Homo sapiens: one gene and its partner. The protein of the gene in region 1 interacts with the protein of each later gene in a pairwise test. Each region holds a gene or a part of one and is shown in the gene's direction. Other genes may lie near its edges.

What was found. The genes of interacting proteins can lie anywhere in the genome.
Region 2: the proteins of FOXJ2 (region 1) and EGLN3 interact in binary tests that used the Homo sapiens proteins (3 or more experiments, as listed by UniProt).

Annotation. Positions count from the first base shown.
Region 1 is NC_000012.12:8,042,691-8,049,728, forward strand, and holds part of FOXJ2 (forkhead box protein J2), read left to right. Parts: coding exon 1-42; intron 43-748; exon of another isoform or gene 749-837; coding exon of another isoform or gene 838-909; intron 910-1,010; coding exon 1,011-1,079; intron 1,080-1,260; coding exon 1,261-1,401; intron 1,402-2,069; coding exon 2,070-2,268; intron 2,269-5,191; coding exon 5,192-5,599; intron 5,600-6,006; coding exon 6,007-6,108; intron 6,109-6,671; coding exon 6,672-6,881; intron 6,882-7,038.
Region 2 is NC_000014.9:33,941,045-33,948,082, reverse strand, and holds part of EGLN3 (prolyl hydroxylase EGLN3), read left to right. Parts: intron 1-7,038. UniProt on the Homo sapiens protein: Prolyl hydroxylase that mediates hydroxylation of proline residues in target proteins, such as PKM, TELO2, ATF4 and HIF1A. Target proteins are preferentially recognized via a LXXLAP motif.

The DNA of each region.
Region 1 (7,038 bases):
TGTTTCCGGAAGGTGCCCAGACCTCGGGATGACCCTGGGAAGGTAAGATACTACTGTAAGCATTGAAAGGAGGAGTAGGAAGGAGAGTGAAGTAGTTGACAGTCCAGAGTCCTGTGGCTGTTTTAATTACCCAGAAGAGGAAATCATGCTAATTAGAGAAGCATCTTTATTTTTTTCTCAGAGGAAGCTTGGTTGTCAAGCTTATGGGCCCCCAGTAGAATGGGTGACTGAGAAAGACTGTGAGGCCAGGCGTGGTGGCTTATGCCTGTAATCCCAACACTTTAGGTGGCCGAGGCGGGCGGATCAACTGAGGTCAGGAGTTCAAGATCAGCCTAGTCAACATGGTGAAACCCCATCTGTACTAAAAATACAAAAAATTAGCCAGGCGTGGTGGTACATGCCTGTAATCCCAGCTACTCAGGAGGCTGAGGCAGGAGAATTGCTTGAACCTGGGAGGCAGAGGTTGCAGTGAGCTGAGATTGTGCCATTGCACTCCAGCCTGGGCAACAAGAGTGAAACTCCATCTCAAAAAAAAAAAAAAAAAAAAAGACTGTGAAATCTTTTTTTTAAAAAAATAGAAATACTTAGTGTAAAGTTGACTTTCATGCTCCCCCTTTTTTGTGTGGCACTCTTTTTTCCTAGATGTAAAAGGTAGACTTAATAACCTTTGTACAAACATCTCTATACAAAAGTCCCTGGTGTTTCCCCCGTAAAAGAGAAGGGATGGATCATTCTCTCCATTTGACAGATGTGGATGCTAAAGTCCAAGCAAGTTTTGCCTCAGGTCAGAAGGGAAGGGAGAGGCTGTGTCTGGACATTTCCAGCTCTTTGAGCTAGATGCCATTGTTCTGCCCCTCCAAAACAATCGAGGCCTGTGTTTGGACCACAGGATTACCTCTGGCATACTCAGTGAGTTTCTAGGACAAATTTGCTCTTCATTAATACCCAGAACCCTGGGAGGTTCTGAATGTAACAATTTTGTTTTCTGTGGGAATGGGATCTCCTTCCAGGGTTCCTATTGGACAATTGACACCTGCCCTGACATTTCCCGAAAGAGAAGACACCCTCCAGATGATGATGTAAGTTCCCAGCTCATGAGGAGATGCCATATCTGAGCCAGCTGCTCCTTCCACCTCCTCTTATGGACGTTCAGTCCTTTCAGAGGCAAAGGTGGAAGGAATACCAGCAGAGGGGAAACCATGGGTCTTGGGAGGATATTGCGCCTCTGCTTATAGATTTCTTTTTTTTCACAACCCTCAGCTGTCCCAAGACTCACCAGAACAGGAGGCAAGCAAGAGCCCACGGGGAGGCGTTGCAGGGAGTGGAGAAGCCTCACTGCCTCCTGAGGGGAATCCGCAGATGTCACTTCAGAGCCCCACATCTATAGCCAGCTACAGCCAGGTAGGAAGCAGATATGGCAGGGGTCATGGGATGGGTGGTGAATAGATTCAGATGTCTCCCTGTTTATTCAGAATTATGTATTGAGTATCTGTGATATATGAGGCAGATAAATTGAGAAGGAAGGGGAAGGCAAAAGAGGGAAATAGAGAGAGAGAGAAATAGAAAGGCATAGCAGAACTTTGAGAAACATCAGGAAAAAAAAGCTGGGCACAGTGGCTCATGCCTGTAATGTCAGCACTTTGGGAGGTCGAGGCAGGCGGATCACGTGAGTCCACGAGCTTGAGACCCGCCTATCCAACATGCCAAAACCCCATCTCTACAAAAATACAAAATTAGCTGGGCGTGGTGGCATGTGCCTATAGTTCCTGCTACTTGGGAGGCTGAGGCATGAGAATCACTTGAACCGGGGAGGTGGAGCCTGGGCGACAGAGCGAGACCCTGCCTCAGAAACAAACAAACAAACAAAAAAGAAGAAATGGAGACTGATGAGAGAAAGAGGGTAGATTCAAGATAAGAACTAATGAGGAAAGAAGGAGAAAATGATGCTGGGTCATTGAAGAGCTAGGCGAGGATGAAGAGGACAGACAGGAGAGCCTGGTGACCATTGAAGGGTTTTATTGGTCCCTCAGCTGGGACACTGATCAGGAATTTCTTACCTGTTTTTGCAGGGCACAGGATCTGTGGATGGTGGAGCAGTGGCAGCAGGGGCTTCAGGCCGAGAAAGTGCTGAGGGTCCCCCTCCCCTCTATAACACCAACCATGACTTTAAATTCTCCTACTCAGAGATCAACTTTCAGGATCTAAGCTGGTCCTTCCGCAACCTCTATAAGTCCATGCTGGAGAAGTCCTCTTCCTCCTCTCAGCACGGTGAGTCTGGAGTTGGGATGGGTGCAGGGAGACTTTTTTATCTTGTTGAACAAGTGGGGTGACATTTTCTTTTTTCCCTTAGTTTTTTATTTTTATTTTTTGTGAGACAGGGTCTCACTCTTTCGTCCAAGCTGGAGTGCAGTGGCACGATCTGAGCTCACTGCAACCTCCGCCTCACGGGTTCAAGCAATTCTGTCATCTCAACTTCTCGAGTATCTGGGAGTACAGGCACGTGCTACCACGCTTGGCTAATTTTTGTATTTTTTTTTTTTTTTTTGAGATGGAGTCTCGCTCTTGTCGCCCAGGCTGGAGTGCAGTGGCGCAATCTCGGCTCACTGCAACCTCCGCCTCCCGGGTTCAAGCAATTCTCCTTCCTCAGCCTCCCGAGTAGCTCAGACTACAGGCGCATGCCACACCCAGCTAATTTTTGTACTTTTAGTAGAGACAGGGTTTCACCATGTTGGCCAGGCTGGTCTCGAACTCCTGACCTCAGGTGATCTGCCTGCCTTGGCCACCCAAAGTGTTGGAATTACAGGCATGAGTCACTGTGCCTGGCTTAAGTTTTGTATTTTTAGTAGAGACAGGGTTTCACCACGTTGGCTGGGCTGGTCTCGAACTCCTGGCCTCAAGTGATCCACCCACCTTGGCCTTCCAAAGTGCTGGGATTACAGGCGTGAGCCACCGTGCCCGGCCATATTTCTTTCTTTATTTTTTTGAGGCACAGTTTCGCTCTTTGTTGCTCAGGCTAGAGAGCAGTGTCGCGATCTCGGCTCACTGCAACCTTCGCCTCCCAGGTTCAAGCAATTCTTCTGTCTCAGCCTCCCAATTAGCTGGGATTACAGGCTCCCGCCACCACGCCTGGCTAATTTTTATATTTCTTAGTAGAGACGGAGTTTCACCACGTTGGCCAGGCTGGTCTTGAACTCCTGACCTCAGGTGATCCACTTACCTCAGCCTCCCAAAGTGCTGGGATTACAGGCGTGAGCCACTGTGCCTGACCCATATTTCTTATTTTTAACACAAAGAGAGGTATCACTACTCAGAGGAAATATTTCATGAACTAAAACTGTTTGGAGTCAAGTGAGCTCATCTGTCCTTGTGCAAATACAGCTGTTTCAGGAGGCAAGCTAGGCTAATAGCTTCAGAAAGTGAATTGGAGGATTGCCCCTTCCAGGACTAAGGGCAGTGATTTTAGGGCTGCAAGTGAGTCATTTGGAGGACGACCACGAGGGGGCAGCAGCAGTACCCTCTCCTGAAGAATCCCTGCGTTTCATTGTGAGAACAGTTTCTTTTTAGTGTATTTACATTTATGTTACTTTTATTGTGAAAAATTGCAAACAGATGCAAAAGTGTGGAGAAAAATATAATAAACCCCTGTGTTCCATCCCCCAACTTTAAGTTATCAGTATTTTATTAGGCTTGTTTTGTTTACCACTGAGCCTTCTAAAAATTGGAGTAATTTAATGGAATTCACATATACCATGTCATTCCACTCATAAATACAACTTCGATATACACCTCTAAATGATGACTTTCTTCTAGTTATCTACCATGACATTATCATTCCTAACATAATTGATAATACATCCTTAATATCAGCTAGTATCTTGTCCGTGCACATTTTCCTAATTATCATATGAGAATGACTTAAAGTTTTTACTGGGAGGCCCCTTGAGAGAACATCTGGTTCGGCCCTCTGCAATATCTGTGTGTTCGTTTTTTAAATAACTTAGAGACAGTGGTGAAGTTGATTTCAGGTGAGGCATTAGACCTTCTCATTCTGTGCAGTAGCCCTATGTTGGCAGCAGGGGCTGAATGGAATGATAAAAACTGGTTAGGAGTCACTTTTTGGAAAACTTATATTCATTTTCATGAATTTCTTCTTGTATATCACAGGGGATCAATTCCTAGAGTAGTGTCCAAGACTGTAGCATTTGCTCAAAAAATGAATCCGACTCAGGTGGTTGGTTGATTGGAGGAGGGAACATGAGAAACTGTCAGAAATAAAGTAAAAAATTAGATTGGGTGAGGACAGCCTAGAGTTCACTCAAGTTTTATTGTGACCGAAAGCCCCTAGTCTCAGACTTTTGTTCTTCCCAGCCTGTCTGCTTGAGAAATAACTCCATCCTGTCTCTGCTCCTTACCCAAGCTACATTTGTTTATAGAGGGTACAGGAATGACTTGGCAGTAGCAGAGTGTAGAGAAAATAAGGGGCCGGTCGTGGTGTCTCATGCCTGTAATCCCAGCACTTTGGAAGGCCAAAGTGGGCGGATCACCTGAAGTCAGGAGCTCGAGACCAGCCTCAACATGGAGAAACCCCGTCTCTACTAAAAATACAAAATTAGCCAGGCGTGGTGGTACACACCTGTAGTCTCAGCTACTCGGGAGGCTGAGGCAGGAGAATTGCTTGAACCTGGGAGGCGGAGGTTGCGGTGAGCCGAGATCGCACCATTGCACTCCAGCCTGGGCAACAAGAGCGAAACTCTGTCTCAAAAAACAAAAAACGGAAGGAAGAGGAGATAGTAGACAACTGATGGCTTTGTTTTGTTTCTGATTTACTTTTTTTTTTTTCCCTAAACACTAGATGACCAGGGATGGTTTCCTTTTTAAAGTTCACCTGCTGGGAAACTGTGATTTCAGGCCTTCAGCCAAATCCCTAAAAAGTAGCATTAAATGCTACACACTGACCTTTTTAGTAAGATTTCAGTGGTCTCCACACTGTCAGGGCCCTCCTCTAACCTAAGTGCCTTCCTGTCTCTTGTACCTGCCAGGAGGGCCACAGGGATCTTTGCTGCCCTAGAATGTTCTTACCCTTTTAACTCCACAGTTTTAGTCTGAGGCTTCCCATCTCAACCCAGGGAAAATCCCATTTTGTGAAAAATGCATTGCTTAAGTCACTTGCCTGCTTCCTCCCCACCTGCAGGCTTTTCTTCTCTCCTGGGGGACATCCCACCCTCGAACAACTACTACATGTATCAGCAGCAGCAGCCACCGCCACCTCAACAGCAGCAGCAGCAGCAGCAGCCGCCACAGCCACCTCCCCAGCAGTCCCAGCCACAGCAGCAGCAGGCACCTGCCCAGGGCCCCTCAGCTGTAGGGGGTGCTCCTCCACTGCACACCCCAAGCACAGATGGTTGTACCCCACCAGGGGGAAAGCAAGCTGGGGCGGAAGGCTATGGGCCTCCCCCTGTAATGGCCATGCATCCACCCCCGCTGCAGCATGGAGGCTACCACCCTCATCAGCACCATCCCCACTCCCACCCTGCCCAGCAGCCACCACCTCCACAGCCACAGGCACAAGGCCAGGCTCCCATCAACAACACTGGCTTTGGTGAGTAAGGAGGGTGCACAGTGATCTAGAGGAGGGTGGGGTGATGTCCTTGTCCTAACACCGGCATGGAGGTGCAGTTAGTTAGGAAGTTAATGATGGGTCTTTTAGGCTTCGCTCCTTCATGTGAGCTAATCTGAACAAAGTTACTACTTAGAGCTCTGTCTTATAGAATTCCTGGATCAATTGAGATTGTTTTACATATTCTCCTGACTATGAGCCTGGCTGTACTTAAAGCGTAGCTAGCTTTTCCAGTCCTAAACTCCCAGGGAGGGAGAGTCCAAAACTTGGAAATGCAACTGCTAATCTGTATAGATGCAAGAATCTTGCATGTAGTCAGCCTGGTATCAGTTGACTGCTGTCTTACACTTCACTCTATCTTATTATCCACTTTCCCCTCCTCTTTACAGCCTTTCCTTCTGACTGGTGCTCTAATATTGACTCTTTAAAGGAAAGCTTCAAGATGGTGAATCGGCTCAATTGGTCCAGCATTGAGCAGTCACAATTCTCAGGTTAGTGATCAAAGGACGAAGGAAGAGAGGGATACACTGTAAGGGAAAACCCAGTAGAAACTGGAACCGGAAGGGGGTGGTTAAATGAAGTTGCAGAAATGAGGATTTCATTGTTTTTCTTTCTTTTTACACAAGATGGATCATATTTACATTATTTTCAAATTAACTCAAATTAATCTTGTCTTAACTGAAAATGTGGCAGTGAATAATCCTAGTCCATTCTGTCTTTGGGAGGGAGAAGGCCCTCAGGAATTTAGAGACCGTGGACCACGATTTTGTAGTTTTGTCACCACTCACTGACAGTGTGACCTTGGCTGAGTCACTCAGTCACATTGAAAGTTTATCTTACTCATCAGTAAGATGGCAATTATAAGAATTTGGTAAGGGATCAAATAGAATGAGAGTTTGAAAATGCAGAGCTCTGAAAGATATAAATTGTTATTGTTAGTGCCCGTTATCAGTGGGGGTGATTGATGGTGTGTTTGGAACAGTGAGATAGGGCGGGGTCTGATAGGGGCTTCCTACCTCTGCAAGGTTTGCATTGCTTGCTTCCCTCTTTGTAGAACTGATGGAGAGTCTACGACAGGCAGAGCAGAAGAACTGGACCCTCGACCAGCATCACATTGCCAATCTGTGTGACTCCCTCAACCACTTCCTTACTCAGACTGGTCACGTGCCCCCTCAAGGGGGTACCCACCGCCCACCAGCCCCTGCCCGTATTGCTGACTCCTGTGCCCTCACCAGTGGCAAACAGGAGTCAGCCATGAGCCAAGGTACTGCACCAAGCCAGTTGCCATGGAGGTGGAGACTATGTTGAAAAGGAAGCATAGGAGAAAGGCAAAAGAGAACTGAGAGAAAGGATTTTATGGGGCAGTGACCCAAATTGAGCAGTGGAACTAGTTTATCAGTTGACTGAATATCTGTTGAATC
Region 2 (7,038 bases), on another chromosome or scaffold:
TGTTTTCAAGAAAAACTAAAGTTTTAAATTTATTTATTATTATTATTTTTTTGAGATGGAGTCTTGCTCTGTCGCCAGGCTGTAGCGGCTCACTGCAATCTCTGCCTCCTGGGTTCAAGTGATTCTCCTGCCTCAGCCTGCTGCATAGCTGGGACCACAGGCACGCCACCCTGCCCAGCTAATTTTTGTATTTTTAGTAGAGACGGGGTTTCACCATGTTGGCCGGGCTGGTCTCGATCTCTTGACCTCATGATCCACCCGCCTCGGCCTCCCAAAGTTCTGGGATTACAGGCTTGAGCCACTGTGCCCGGCCCTTAAATTTATTTTTAAGTTTTAATTAAGGAAATTTTCAAACATACATAAACATAAGAGGCTAATATAATGAGCTCCCATCACCCAATTTCAACAATTGCCAATATGTACATTTGTTTTAGACCAATTTTTTTTAGCTACTTTAAATTTCTTGAGGTTATGCTTATTCATGCACTTACCCAAATTTCATTTCTTTTTTTGTTCTTTGCTAGACTTGGAAAGATCATTGAATAATATTGCCCTTTATCTCAATGAAACAATAGCAAAGATATTGGGAGTAAAACAGAAAGATACACTGGACCTAAAATTGAAATTGTGGAAGAATATAGAAAGAAATATTAGATGGTTCTGCTTCCTGCCAAGAAAGTTGTTAATGGTCAGAATTTGTCTACCTCATCTTTGCTGGAGAAAAATCCAAGGGTGTTGAAGACCCCTTGGGAAGTGGTTCCTGTAATGTACAGCTGTATGGCCCCCCCTAACTTCAAGCATGATCATTGCTTTCAGGCTAGCAAAGGATTTATCCGCTCGCTACTCCCTTTTGGAGATTTTAGACCATATCCAAGATAAATATTGGTCATAATTTGCTCCTTTTTCTTTGGCTGCCTAGATCTTGAAAATGGCTGTTTTCCAGAGAATGTATAATTTTTAGAACCAAAAGTCCCTCTGCTTCAAACAGCTCACTGTAGACTCACTAGTTAGTGACTCTAATAAGAAGAACTACCTTTTATTGAGCAGTTTGTATTGTCTGGCACTGTGCTATGCACTTTACAAATACTATCTTGCTTAATCTTCAGAAACACAGTCTTAAACATATTGAGTGATTAAATACTGTGCCCAAAGTTTCAAAGTCAGTGGTAAGAAACAGTTTAAATGGGGGCTGGGAGCTCAGGCTCAGTGTTAACTAACTTCGTGGCTTTAGGCAAGTTGCTTGGTTTACACCAGGTGCAAAATGAAAGGAAATAATGCCGTAAAGCTGTTGGAGGAAGAAGCATTAAATAAGATGATGTTTATGAAATGTTTAGCAGAATTCCGAGCCTTCATCAGTGTTTTAAGTCTCCAGAGGGGAAATTTGGGATCCTAACCTAGATTTGTGTAACTCCAGAGACTGTGTTATTTCCTTTTATTCTCTCCTACTTCCGACCTTTCATTTATTCAGCAAATGTTATGGAGTGTTCAGCCTGTGTGGGATGCTGTGCAGGGGTGGTGGTGCCATGATGAACGAATTTATACTTTCGTATACTTTGAATTGTAGGATGGTCTCATTCACACTTGACTAATTCTTAGGCTTAAGAAAACCCTCAAACATTGAAGTGGGTCAGTTGAGTACATTTGAAGAAAAAAATAGAGTACTGTGCTGATGTTTTCCTACTGTTTTATTTATTTATTTATTTATTGAGACAGAGTTTTGCTCCTGTTGCGCAGGTTGGAGTTCAATGGCGCAATCTTGGCCCACCACAACCTCCGCCTCCTGGGTTCAAGCGATTCTCCTGCCTCAGCCTCCTGAGTAGCTGGGATTACAGGCGTGCGCCACCATGCCCGGCTAATTTTGTATTTTTAGTAGAGACGGGGTTTCTCCTTGTTGGTCAGGCTGATCTCTAACTCCCGACCTCAGGTGATTCGCCTGCCTTGGTGCCTCCCAAAGTGCTGGGATTACAGGTGTGAGCCACCGCGCCCGGCTTCTACTGTTATTTTTAGGAAAACATTTATTGATAGGGTTTGTTCGTAGGATTCCTGACCAGACTAGCTCTGGAAGGTGGCATTGTGAGGACTGCATTGTGAACAGACCAATTGGTCCTCCCCTGGAAACAATAAGGAGGAATGATGAAACAGCAAAACATTTATGAATTAAAGAAGATGTGTTGCAAGGTGGTGTGTTTATTCCTTGCTGTTGAGCAATAACAGTTTTGGCCCACCCTTCTCATGTGAGGTCAGGAATATACATTATTTAATGGAGCTTATCATGGTTGCAAACTACTTTAAGGGAAAAATGAAGCAATGTACTATGAAGTGATCTCGCAGGATCCAAGTGCAAGAAATGCAGTCAGGGTTCTCAGAAGCTTAGAGGTATGAACTAGGAAGCAGAAAGTCCTTAACATCCAGGACAGCTGGTGTGTTCTTTTCTCAGGAGCCTCATGACCTCCATCTTTGCTTCCCTGCTTTTGCTCTTCATTTCTTATCCTCTTTTCAATCCAGCTTTTGCTGCCTTCCCATGCACATGGCTCAAGATGGCTGCCCCACAATGGCCACCTCAGCCTTTAGTTGCAGATGAGCAGAGACTTCAGTAACATTCCTGGATCCCTGTTTTCATCGCCTGGGAGAAAGTCTGATTGTCTCACCTTGGCTCAAGGGATCTATCAGCCGTAGTCTGGCACAGTGGGAGGCATGTGGAAACCATGCATCACAAATATGGTTGCCAGGGCCCATGAGAGTTATAGCTCTTAGAGCACAGAGTTTGAGAGCTGGATACCATAAATGGTATCTCTGCAATTAGAATCTTAGAAATCTACCTGTGAATAAGGTATTTTGGGGAGGAGTGCTGCTGAGTTTGAAGCTCTGGAACACTGTGAATAAGGTATTTTGGGGAGAAGGAGTGCTGAGTTTGAAGCTCTGGATCATCTTTCTGTAAGGATGTAAGGGATTCCTATAAAAGCTTTTGTATTAAAAATAACTTAGCTCCTGTAGGAAGGAAATTACTCCACAGTAATAATTTACAGAATACAGTCCCAGTGACAGTGAAACAAGTCTCTCCAATGGGCAAGTTTTCATGGGGTTTTTTGTCTATTTTGTGAATGACATTTGGAAACAAAAAAGGCAGGAGGGTGTGTGTGTTTAATTTGTAATTTCTTTTGCTCAATTTTGGGCCACTGGCCACTTCACTATAACCTTATCTGCTTCAGAGAAGTGGATAATAAAGGGATATCGATTTAATTCATTCACAGATCACTCAGTGCTGCACACTGTGGGAGACCTGTCCGTGGATGGGGAAGGGAAGTGCCCAGTGATTACAAAACCACCTGAAGAACTAAGCTGAGAGTTGAGTGTAGTGTGCAGTGGTTGTCACCAATTCTTTCTCTTTTTCTGGTTAAAAAGTGCACGTTTACGCTCATTAGTCATTGTTTCTCTTTGGGTTTTCTCCAATTTCTCTGTTAATTTAAAATGAAGCAACCAGAACAAGTGATCAAAACTATACAGGATGTTAATAATATGGGTTTTTAGGGCTAGAGAGATATTAGAAGTCACATCTATCCAATGTCTCAGTCATTCAGCAGTTGTTTTCATATTTGGAGAGATGATATCTTGAGCAGATCCTTGGGAAGGGATGGATAAAAGGTACTTTAATAGAGAAAGGGTGGCTGGGTGCAGTGGCTCACACCTGTAATCCCAGCACTTTGGGAGGCCGAGGCGGGCAGATCACAAGGTCAGGAGTTTGAGACCAGCCTGGCCAACATGGTGAAACCCCATCTCTACTAAAAATACAAAGTCTAGCCGGGCATGGTGGTTTGCGCCTGTAGTCCCAGGTACTCAGGAGGCTGAGGCAGGAGAATTGCTTGAACCTGGGAGGTGGAGGTTGCAGTGAGCCGAGATTGCACCATTGCACTCCAGCCTGGGCAACAGACCAAGACTCCATCTCAAGAAAAATAATAATAATAATTAAAAAGAAAATAGAGAAGGGGCTACGCTGGCTGGGTCAGACAGACTGGGACCAGGGTCAGTAGGTTAATTCAGTGGCATCACCATTTTATTTGGGAATTTTAAATATAATTCTGACTGAAAATTGATAAACACCCTTAAGTGGAGTTATGCAAGCCTGTCTCTGCATAAGGTTTTGGAGTATCATGAATGATTTCCCTTTCTAACCTTTCTGCTTCAGCTCAAGCAAAATTGGTAAAATTTTTCCTGATTCCTGAATCTCCTGGAAAAACTTGTAATTTCATAAGTAACAAACAGCCCTCCATTTTATGACCCTATCCCAAGAACACACCATGTATGAAAGATTTCTCTGAGGAAGCTTAAAGGTCAGGGTGGCGTTCTACCCAACCTCTAATGAGCAGAGTTTAAGCACTGCCAGCATCTTGTGTACTTCCGGATAAAGCTTGGAAGGCTGCTCACCTGTGGGCCATGTTTGGTTTGGCAAGGCCTCTGCTTTTGACCCAACTTTGCAGCCCTAGGTAAATTAAATTACATTTTGATCTGTGCCCACTGAAGACCAAGAAGTAGCTTGCAGGTTAACATTATGGAGAAGGTTATTAACTTTTTGTTAATTATTACGGCAACAGACTCCACAATTCCTTGGTAGCAGCACTTTGTAGTTGTTAAGTGATATTGCTCTAAGAAACGGGTGTCGCTTTTCTCTAGTGTTTGTCAAATGCACATGTTCTGACAGTAATGATAGTTCAGATCTATTTTGCTGGGCATCTGCCAGGGGTGCCCAGTGGGTAGCTGAATCCAGAGGCACTGGAATTGTAAATACAACAGACAAATCATTTGATGGTGCCAGACTAAGGAGTTCAGCTTTGGCAGATTGCCAGGAGCCGTTGATTGGGCTCAGATTCAGTGCTATGTGTCTGTTTGCCAAGCAAGATTAGTTGTCTTGGTTAATTATACATAGAATTTGTACCCCCTTTCTCTCGATTATTTCCATCTTAAACCGGTATGACATTTACTTTAATTTTGCATCTTGTTTTGATATTGATTTGTGGGTGAGTTTCTGTCCCTGTTTTTGGTGAGTCTGTAGTGACTACGTTTTCCTGCCCCGGTCCTAACACAATCCCAGCCTTACAGACCCTGGGTTTGCTGGTGTATAATGCAGGCTTTCACATCTTGTATTGGATTCATTTGGTACCTTGTTACTTAGTGTTCTCCGTGTTCAGTACAGTGTCAATACCTCCTTATTAAATCAAGCTAATTTTTGATTCTTTAGAAGGTACAATGATTCTCAAGTTCTGGAGTACATGTGCCTATCTTATATTAAACATTAGTTTTTCTTTACAAAATGAGGCCAAAATACTTATTGTTGCCATACAAAAATAATTCCAGAATACAAAGAATCAAATAATATGATAGTAACCTCAATTCTTTGTCAGTGGGAAGAAAACAAAATGAAAAACTCAATTCCAGGTGTCAATAACATCTATTTTTTATTCTAATGTGAGACCCTGAAGTTCCATCTTTTTGAAGTTGTCAGGATAATTTCATTTGAGCATTGCTTGGAAGCTGTAAGGATATACTGTTTGGGACCCTTTTATTTATTTTTATAGAGATGGGGTTCTGCCATGTTGCCCAGGCCTCCCAAAGTACTGAAACTACAGGTGTGAGCCACCAGGCCAGGCCAACAAAACCCCTTTTAAACACAAAATATTGAAGATTCAGGCAAGAACATGCAGTATTGCTAGAGAAGGGCCTATTGTGCTTTCTTTGTTTAGTTTTACTTTTTAGGTTCACTATAGAACCTCAAGTTGTCTTTTTTTTTTTTTTAACTAAACTTTCTTTCCTTTCTTAGTAGAAAAATCCTTGAGGGGCCCTTTCTTAGTAGAAAAATCCTTGAGGGGGGAAGTTTTTTAAAGTAACTTACTGTAACCATAAATCACTTGCCGTTGGTTCTTGTTCTTCCTGTAATCCATTTTATGTACTTTTGCTAGAGTGTAGTAGTCCCAATTCCAATTCTAATCATGTAGTCTCTGTGCTTAAAACAAAATAATCCAAAAATCCAACCATGCTCCTTCTTCATTATCTACTATACAACACTGTAAAGACTGTAAACTTAGCCAGCTTTGACAGCCCTCTACATCTGACCACATCTGACCTTTCTACACTTAATTTCCCACCACTGCCTTCCTTTCCTCCCAGTCCCTGAAATGCTAGAAACTAATTTGCCAGGCATAATGAGCTTCCCCATTGTCTTCCACTCATCAAAAATCCATCTCTACCGCCTTCTAGTGCCTGTTCCCTGAAGTCTTCCCTTCTGCTCCCCAGAACTCTGTCGTGGCTCAATCCAGGCTGCCCAGTACATGGATTTATTGGGCTGTTTATGCTGTCCACCGTGTGCTTAGAAATTCCTTGAATGCAGAGACTGTTAAGCTTTGTATATACTTTTAGTGCCTAGAACAGTCCCTTATACTTCATAGGTGCTTGTTGGCTTAATTTCATCTTCAAAAGGAACTTTGATTTTGATGGATATTTGAATGTTAAAAAAAAAGCTAGAATTTTTTTTGGGGGGGATAGAGGGGAATGACGGGGGAAGATGGGTGGCTGCAGCTTAGTCTCTAATTCGATGCCTAAGTATTTAAATATTTTATTAGAGTGACATGTTATGTGAGACCATCTCAATGGAGGACCTTAGCTTTGTAAGTTTTTTTTTTTTCTCAGTTTCGAAATCCTAGGTTTCACCCTAGAAATACCCGAGTCACACCTGGATCCTGGCAGCTCATACCTACAGGTCTGGCTCAGAGACGCCAGGGCCACGAGGCTTAGGGCCCCAGGTTCTGGTCCTAGCTCAGCCCCTGGCAAGTTTCATGGTCCTCCATTTCCACTTCTTTATGGATGAGTTAGATACTTGTTTTCATTTTTGAACTTAAATTTGGTCAGCACCTACCACTTGACACTAGGATGGACACTTCAGATTTTATTTCATCTTCCTATGATCTTGGGCAAGTCAGTTCTCTGAGCCCACTTTCATCATCTATAACATAGGCACAATAATACTGTATGTCTACTTCTAGGATTATA